2 separate regions of the Homo sapiens genome follow, and region 2 is linked to region 1. The links come from fine-mapping of genetic effects on gene expression. A gene starts in region 1. The other region holds a variant in brackets. All regions are shown on one strand. Distances are from middle to middle.

Region 1 (4,000 bases):
GCCTGTAGTCCCAGCTACTCGGGAGGCTGAGGCAGGAGAATGGCGTGAACCCGGGAAGCGGAGTTTGCAGTGAGCTGAGATCGTGCCACTGCACTCCAGCCTGGGTGACAGTGCGAGACCCCGTCTCAAAAAAAAAAAAAAAAAAAGAAGCTCTGGGACCTGTTAAATGCTGTGTGTTTGGTAAATAAAAAACTTCCGACTTTGGCGCTGTTCTAGGCACTGAGGATTTTAGAATTTTCAAAAAGCTTTTGCATATTTTATCTCGCTTGACCCGAAAAATCCTGAGGTAGAGCAAATAATATTTTTTTCTACCTTTAGTATGTAAGGAAATTAAGGCCCAGAAAAGTAGTGAGTAATATGACCCAAATTCACAGTGGAGAGACCAAGACTGCAACTTAGTTTTCTCAAGTGTTTACCTCTGGGCTACCCACCATCAAGGCTAAGAATTCTCAACAGCTCTGGTCTTCTGGAGGCCTTTCCTTGTCAAATCTCATTCCTGTTTTCTACCCCTCCCCCCAAACCCCCGTACTATCTAGCAGAGAAGAATCTTCACTTCTCAGTTGAGGAACGCCCTTTCCCTTTACAGGCTTTTGGCCAAAATGAGCAAAGTTCTCTTCTCAGGATGAGGTGGCCAGCCTTTCTGCATCAATATTGTGAAACACATGAATAATCTGGGCACGCATCCCCAGGGCCATGACTCTGCAATTTTGTACCTTCTAAAACTAACAAACACTACACATGAGATAAAGAAAAAAGATAATTCGGTGGCCATGTTGCGGATACGTTAATCTGGAACTCTAGATGAATTCTAGCATTTCCTGAAGGCATCGTGGTGGCTGCAGACTCAGCCCACTATGTGGTCTCATGCAAAGTGGGGTTCAGAGCCCAGAGGCTGCAGGTGAAATGCTGGTGCCTCTCGGGAGAGTGGTGGGGTAAGGCCTTTCTCTGTGCTGACCTGACCTCCTTTTCCAATCTCAGGGATTCATAGACACCACTCTAAAACAAAGCGGTAGAAAAATTTTACTCGTCTGCCAGAGAGGGTAATATCCAAATTTGGACTGATTTGCCTTTTTTTTTTTTTTTTTTTTAATTACCAAAGATAATCGCACACATAGCCCTCTTATTTTGGAAACAGCAGAGGACAACAAAGTCCAGTACTATCCTAAGGCCAAGAAAAGCATATGCAAAAGGTAGGTGTAGGCTGGGACTCACAGCAGGCTGGGACCCCAGGAAAACTGGGCTTTAAGGATTGCTCACTGGAGGCCTGGGTGCTATACAGCAATGCTTGCGGGCACCCACTCAGCACTCACTGGGTAAGAAATTAGGGAGAAGAAATAGGGGAATATAAACGTGGAGCTCAGACTGCCACATTTCAAGAGAAGCAGAGAGACTAGAAGATTTACATGCACTCCTCTCTCCTCTGTCCCAAGCCAGCTAGAGCAATATATGACACCTTAATTCCCGAAAAAGAGAGTTCCCTTCTCCTTTTCTCCTTCCACATGGCTTCCTCCTCCAGACTGGGGAAGTGGGGCACAGGTGAGAACCGTCCCAAGGGGCTCACCCTTAGCTCTCTTGTCACTGGCTATAATATCACACAAAAATATTATCATCTAACCCACATCCTCTTGTTTCGATAGCTAGCATTATTAGCAGTAGTATTATTTAGTATTATTTTAAAACTTGCTGATGTTTCTCCTATCAAAGTGAACTCAGAAGAGCAAATCCTGCCTTACAATAGGCATAAAGGCCACTATGCCCATGAAACCTGAGACATCGCAGGCTTTTGCACTCTTGGGGAGAACAGCAGTCGTTCAAACTACAGGCATTTCCTCCATTACTACACGTGCCTTTTCCTCCTTCCCCAGAGTTCAAGGGACCCTTTCAAACAGGAGGTTACTTTGACTTGAAAAGGCTAAGTTTGGAAATCATCACTCAAGCATGAAAAGACTCTCTCGTTTCATTCCTGGAGTTTGAGAAATGGGAAAACTTACCCGCACGGGGACAGAAATACAATTCCCTTTCAAAAGCGATCGATTGAAAAGCTAAGTTTAGCTGCTAAGTGGAGCCAAGCACTTCCAGCTGGCAGAGACCCCCCCAAGTCTTCCATCTGCCACCCACCCTGGCCCTCCCTGCCTGCCACCCTTTGCATGCGGTCCCCTTCTCCCCTCCCAGTACGCACGGTGAGGCCGAGGAGGAGGAAGCAGCAAGCCTGTCCCGCCGCCGGGTCGCGCGCAATGCAGGGACTGTGGCCGCGCGGGCCGGACGCAGGCACCGCCCCTCTCCAGTTAATCTCCTGTTAATTAGCCCTCCCACGTTTAAAGCCCGACCCCAACCTCGCCAAACCCCTCCTCTAAATCACCTGATTTACCCGCCCACAGTAACCATCGCCTGCTGATTCCCTTTGAGCCCTTCTATTTGGCGCCCTTAGAAACTCTGGTTCCTGAAATGCCAACTCCCCTAATCAGTGGGAAGGGGGACAGTAGCCATTGTCTAGGAACTCTGAATTCTCGAACATTTCAGGATCAGCAGAGTTTTGGAAGTTGTTTTTAAAAACTTCGCAGAAAGTTAAAATCTCCAGGGTAGAACTAATTAGCAGGCATTGACAATATTACCTTCCCTTAGACTTCACCTCCCCTGCGCTGGTGGCAAGGCCTCCTTAAAAGGCTGACAATGACAGAATGTAACCCTCAGTAAAGATCACTTACGGTGTTCCAAATTCATGATACCAGACAATTTGCTTTGTCACGATGTCCCCTCCTGTTCAGGGTCCAGAATGAAATTGGAGGCAATTGTACTGGATCAGCTCATTACACAATCAGCTTAGTGTGTTTTTTACAGGGAGGTTTAGAGGAACGTTTACGGAAGCCGTAGATATTTAGCCTACCATCACTATCTAGATTAGGGATACTTCCAAGCTTCCTAGTCCCCATAGTCCCCACAATATTTATGGATCTATCTTTCATGGGTTTATATGAGAAATGTTTAAGGATTTCTGTTTTCAATCTATATTATTTCTCTCCTAGTGCTATATCTCAGACACTCACCACCTGTTGCAAGGTCTACTTCCTTTTTTTGCTCTTAATTTACTCCTTTAGGCTTTAAAGGATATCCCTAGGACTAACTTTCTAGGATGTGATGGACAAGTTCATGTTCTATTAAAGAAAGAAATAACTACCAGTTTGCTCTAGGAACAGAAATTAATCCAAGGAAGGTCTGAGAATGATTTCTATATAAGCATAACAGTAGGAGTTTTGGAAAATCTAGCATCAGAAGGCATCTGTTCTTCACTTTTATGTCTGTATCTTTTCAAAACTCTACTTATTCACCTATCTTTGTAAAGTATACTAGAATCTGTCTGTAACATTAACTGGAATAGGATAGAATTTGAGATGACATAAATCTATTCTGAATTCTCTCCAAAGGAGTTTGGTATTATAAGAATTTAAGACTCTCTTCATTTATTATAAGGTGATACAGGCCAAATCTTATGGATAACATGGCAGAAAAAGGAAGAGGAGAGCTACTGTTTAGATAATTTGGTCTACAGAATGCTAGTTGAATGGTTCTAACATTTTTTTTTTTTTTTTTTTGAGACGGAGTCTGCCTGTGTAGCCCAGGCTGGAGTGCAGTGGCGCGATCTCAGCTCACTGCAAGCTCCGCCTCCCGAGTTCACACCGTTATCCTGCCTCAGCATCCCAAGTAGCTGGGATCACAGGCACCTGCCATCACGCCTGGCTAATTTTTTGTATTTTTAGTAGAGACGGGGTTTCTCTGTGTTAGCCAGGATGGTCTTGATCTCCTGACCTCGTGATCCACCTGCCTCAGCCTCCCAAAGTGTTGGGATTACAGGCGTGAGCCACTGCGTCCAGCTGGTTCTAACATTTTTTTAAAAAAGAAAGTAGCACTTGACTCATCTAATGCTCTAAATATAGAATGTGTTCAAACTATTAATTGATCAATGAATAAATACTGAGTTCCTACTATCACTAAATCACGAACA
Region 2 (4,528 bases), 170 kb after region 1:
ATTAATTATTTCAAAGATATCGATCGAGTGTGGTGGCTCATACCTATAATCCCAGCACTATGGGAGGCTAAAGCAGGAGAACTGCTTAAGGCCAGGAGTTTGAGACCAGCCTGGACAGCACAGTAAGATCCTATCTGTACAAAAATAAAAATAAAAAATTAGCCAGACACACTGGTGTGCCTGTATTGCTAGCTACTCAGGAGGCTGAAGCAGGAGGGTTGCTTGAGCCCAGGAGTTCAAGGCTGCAGTGAGCTATGATCACACCACTGCATTCTAGCCTGGGCAACAGGTGAGGTCATCTCAAAAAACAAACAAACAAAAATATTGACAACCTGATATGCCAAGCACAATACCTACTAATAAAATGGTGATGAGGACAGAACAGAAAAGACTCCTCATGGAGCACACAGTCTAAAGAAAAGTTAAGGTGGTCTCATCTGACACCTAAAAGATGAGCATAATTTAACCAAATGAGGTGGGACACTTGGCAGCCTCCTTACATGACTACAGAAACTCCTCAGAGATCTAGAATTATTCTTGCAGGGTCCCTGTGAAGAGGCCTTATCCTCTTCTCTCCACCTCATCCAGGATGAGTTTCAATGAGAGTAGAGAAGACTATAGAATCCTTACGTTATTCGGAGAACATAATAGAAGAGAAAACATATACCCTATGGAACTCTGGGAAATAGCATTTGCATTCATTCAGTCAGCCAGCCAATCAATCAATAAATATTCAGAGAGATCCTGTTGTGTGCCAGGCATACCTTTATAGGGTTGCTGTCGTTTTTTCTACACCACTAAAGCAAGGCAGCAATAGAGCCAAATGGCTTCAAGAAATGTCTGGGGCAGAGGATCCAAGAGTTCCCTAAGTCTCCAGCACCTCTAAAAGCTGTGGGAGATACACTGATCCTTCCCTCTTTCCCACATTTTTGTGAAACAGAAGTTAGCTCTAAAAGAGAGAGGAGAGTGGGAGTGAGAGCAAGAGAGAGAACAAGTGACCCCAAATGGGCTTGTAGTCATGACACAGGGGCAAGGCAGCAGGGAGCAGCGTGGAGGACCAAATGGAAGAATTGTGTATCTCAGGAGAGATCAGTGCAGGACAGGTAATGACCAAGGATAGATACTAACTCTCCTCTTCACTTGATTGAGACTGAAAACCTCACAGCTTAGATCAGCCCCAGGAAAAAGGAGAAATTAATGACTTGATGGAGCTTAGATCAGAAACAGAGCAAACTCAGAATTCACTTGGCTGGTAGTATTTATAACTGTGGAATAATAGAGTCTCTGAATGTGTATTTAGTAGAGCTACATAAAATAAAGCTACACAGGTATCTTTTTACACAACAAAGATACTTGAAAACACTGCAATCTGTACACAAGCTGGTATGTGTGCTTTTGTGTGTGTGTGTGTGTGTGTGTGTGTGTGTGTGTGTATTTTACAAGCATAACCAAATGTTCCTGAATATTGGAACCTTCAGAATAGTTACCTTGGGAGCCTCTACTTATGATGTTGTCATTTTTCACTCTTTCTTACACCTTCCGCATCATTTTATAAACCATACAAGAAGGTAAATTCTAGTAGTTTATATTGAGTCTCCATTTTTGATTACCAATTGTGGACAGAAGGAAAGAAGGAAGGAAGGAAGGAAGGAAGGGAGGGAGGGAGGGAGGGAGGGACTCAAATAATAGCTTTATTCACCAAACTTGGCACTTGTAGGCTTCTTGCAGTTCCCAAAACTCAACTGACAAATGTTTATTAGCTCTG[T/A]ATATATTAAAAGAATAAAAGCGATCCCAAAGGTATTTAAGCAATGGCTACTGTGTTGCAATACATGTACTGTTAAGATGACTATTCTGAATGAAAACACTCATTTGGATTTGTTAGTACATTTGTGGGAAAATAAGGAACAACTCAAAAACAGCCACATCACAGTCATGTGTATTTAGGGCAGCAGCAAACATCTCATCTGCGACTGCATGGTTATTTCCCTTGAAGTCTCCTGCTCTCTGTCACTGTCTCTATCTGCACTTTGCCTTCTATTTCTCCACACTTTGAAAGGAGCCTTTTCCAAGGGCCTGCAACATTGGGACTGTCATGCAAGAAGAGAGGACAGCTTAAGAGGGCCTGGGTCACGCAGCCCCTGCTGTCTCTTAAGCAGGTATCTTTGCACTTTTACAAGCATTACTCTTAATCTCATTTTTCATTCCCATCTTGCAACTTTATGCCTTCCTATTGATCTTAGTTCTGCTGCTTAGAGACACCAATGAGAAATGCTGAGAACATTCAATAAATAAAAAATATCCATCCCCCTGTACGTGATTCCTCTTTAAAAATTTGCGCAAGTAAAATAGTGTTATTTCTGCTCCCTGTTAGTTCTTCAGACTAAAAGTTTATGCCCTGAATGTGGAATTAACATTAGGGGATGGAAAAAAGGTATTCTAAATTTCAAATCCCAATCCTGGTTCTGAGGTCCGTTGTTGCCTTTGAGAAGCTGCCTTCTATAATTATTGATTACCTCATACATACTATAATTGAAGTCACATCTACAAAGATCTCAGTTTAGATTGTAGCATATGTGATTTTTCCAGAAAGAGACATGCATTTATTTGCATCACTTCTATTTTTTAAAATTGTTTAAATGAAAAAACACTCTTCTACACCACTTATTTTGCTAGTTTGGACTTAACAGAGGATCTTGGTAGATTGGTGCATATTTTATTTAAATGGCCTTTTGTTTAAAAAATACACAAAAACAACTTCAGAGGAGTTTTTATCAAACAGGTGAACCAACTCAGAGATTAAAAGTATATCCCTCATCTCTGTACTATGAAAAATTCAGGTAAGTACCATGAAGTAGAATGAAAAGAATCCTGACATAGCCATCAGGGGCTATGGGTTCTGATATTAGTTTCCCGAGCTATGCAGATTTTATTTTACTCCTCCATGTCCTAATTCTATAACCTGTGAAAATAAAGGGGCTGATCTCTTCACTGGCACTAATAATTTTATTATTATTATATCATGAATAAAGAGTGAATATACATTTTCACAAGCATCTTGTTCCATTTCCTGACAACTTTAGCTATCTCTTTTCCTCATTTCTGAGTTGCCTAAGAGGGTTAAAAATATCCTGTCCACGGGTAGCAGAATACTGAGGAGTAGATGCGAGGGGTTACACTATGAAGCTGTGGCAATTGGGCTCTTTTAAGTTCTAAGGGATTAAAAAAAATACAATCTAACCTGGTGTAAAGAAAAATGGAATTTATTGGTTCATGCCATTGAAAAGTACCATTCGGGCTGAATTGTGCCCCCCTCTCAAATTTATAGGCTGAAGCCCTAATCCTCCCTCATTCACAAGTATGTGATTATATTTGGAGATCAGGTCTTTAAGGAGATAATTAAAGTTAAATGAGGTTATATGGAGGGGCCCCAATGCCAACTGACTGGGGTGCTTAAAGAAGAGGAAACTTGGACACCCAGAGAGACATCAGAGGCACGCATGCGCAGAGAAACGACCATGGTAAGAGGTAGAAAGAAGGTAACCACCTGCAAACCAATGACAGAGGCCTCGGAGGAAACCAACCCTGCCAGAACTTTAAACCTTGGACTTCTAAGCCTCCAGAAGTGTGAAAAAGTAAATTTCTGTTGTTTAAGTCACCTATTCTGTGGTATTTTTTTATGGCAGCCCTAGCAAATCAATACAAGTCACTTGCAGAGCTGGCTGTAAAATTTGCAGAATCCAGTGAAAAATGAAAATGTGGTTCTCCAACTTCAAAAAGTAGGAGAAAAGTGTGACTCACGATACTGAAATATAAGGCTCTTTTTTCCTCCTGTGGTCTCACTCTTACTTGTAATGGTGGTTTTGTTGTGCGGGTTTTCTGGAGTTTAGGGATGATTTTGGTTTTGCTACTTAAGTGTTTCTACACAAAGAAAAACTAAAATTTTTAGTTATCAGCATGAGTTTTACCATTTATCCGTATATTGTGCAAAATCAGTTTTAAATGTAAATACAAGAGCTCTTAAGTCATGTGTAGAACACTAAAATTGCTGAATTTATATTTCATAGCTCATACATGCATCTGTACATATATGTATCATTTTTACCAGAATAGTGGAAAAGCTTCAAAAACTAACTCAACTGTGATGTTATTTCACTTCTTGATACACATTCTGCCAACACCCTCTATTCTACATTCATCAATGAGTGAAGAAAGACTTAAAAGGATAAGCAACTCTGGGTTTTTCTTTCTTTCTCTTTCCATCTGTGTCATTATTATTTCCAGTGTAAATGATTGAGTAATACGGCGAAGTGATATAAAAGAAAGGTTCTAACAGGGCTCTTTGGCCATTTGTTTTTCTTAAAATGTCATGGCCTTCTTTCTGCATTTGAAGCAAGTTCTGATTCTAAGGGAAAGCATGGCTTTCCAGGTTGTCAGCACACCACTGTCTCAGCCATCAACATACCTCGTACTCACTTTGAGTCACTGAACCTCTGCACACTGGGGGCTGTAAGGGGCTGGCTGGAGGTCT

Direction of the effects. Alleles are on the strand shown, and positions count from the first base shown. SD is a standard deviation of normalised expression in the study named.
For the expression in prefrontal cortex of the gene that starts at base 2,245 in region 1, allele A in region 2 goes with a higher level than allele T (small effect, 0.37 SD a copy in CommonMind).

Evidence for each region. PIP is the estimated chance that this variant, and not a neighbour inherited with it, causes the effect.
Region 2: its variant is the best candidate, but not a certain one, in a credible set for the expression of MGST1 in prefrontal cortex (CommonMind, PIP 0.52).

The regions. Positions count from the first base shown.
Region 1 is chr12:16,345,890-16,349,889 of GRCh38, reverse strand. MGST1 (microsomal glutathione S-transferase 1) reads right to left here and starts at 2,245. Exons shown (of 4, transcript NM_020300.5): 1 at 2,180-2,245. RefSeq lists enhancers at 366-1,295, 2,226-3,155.
Region 2 is chr12:16,173,448-16,177,975 of GRCh38, reverse strand. The region is part of intron 1 of LOC101928362 (a long non-coding RNA gene); the gene reads right to left. Among named protein-coding and RNA genes, the nearest start is that of SLC15A5, 100 kb to the left of the region's middle. The variant T/A (reference allele first, on the strand shown) is at 1,766.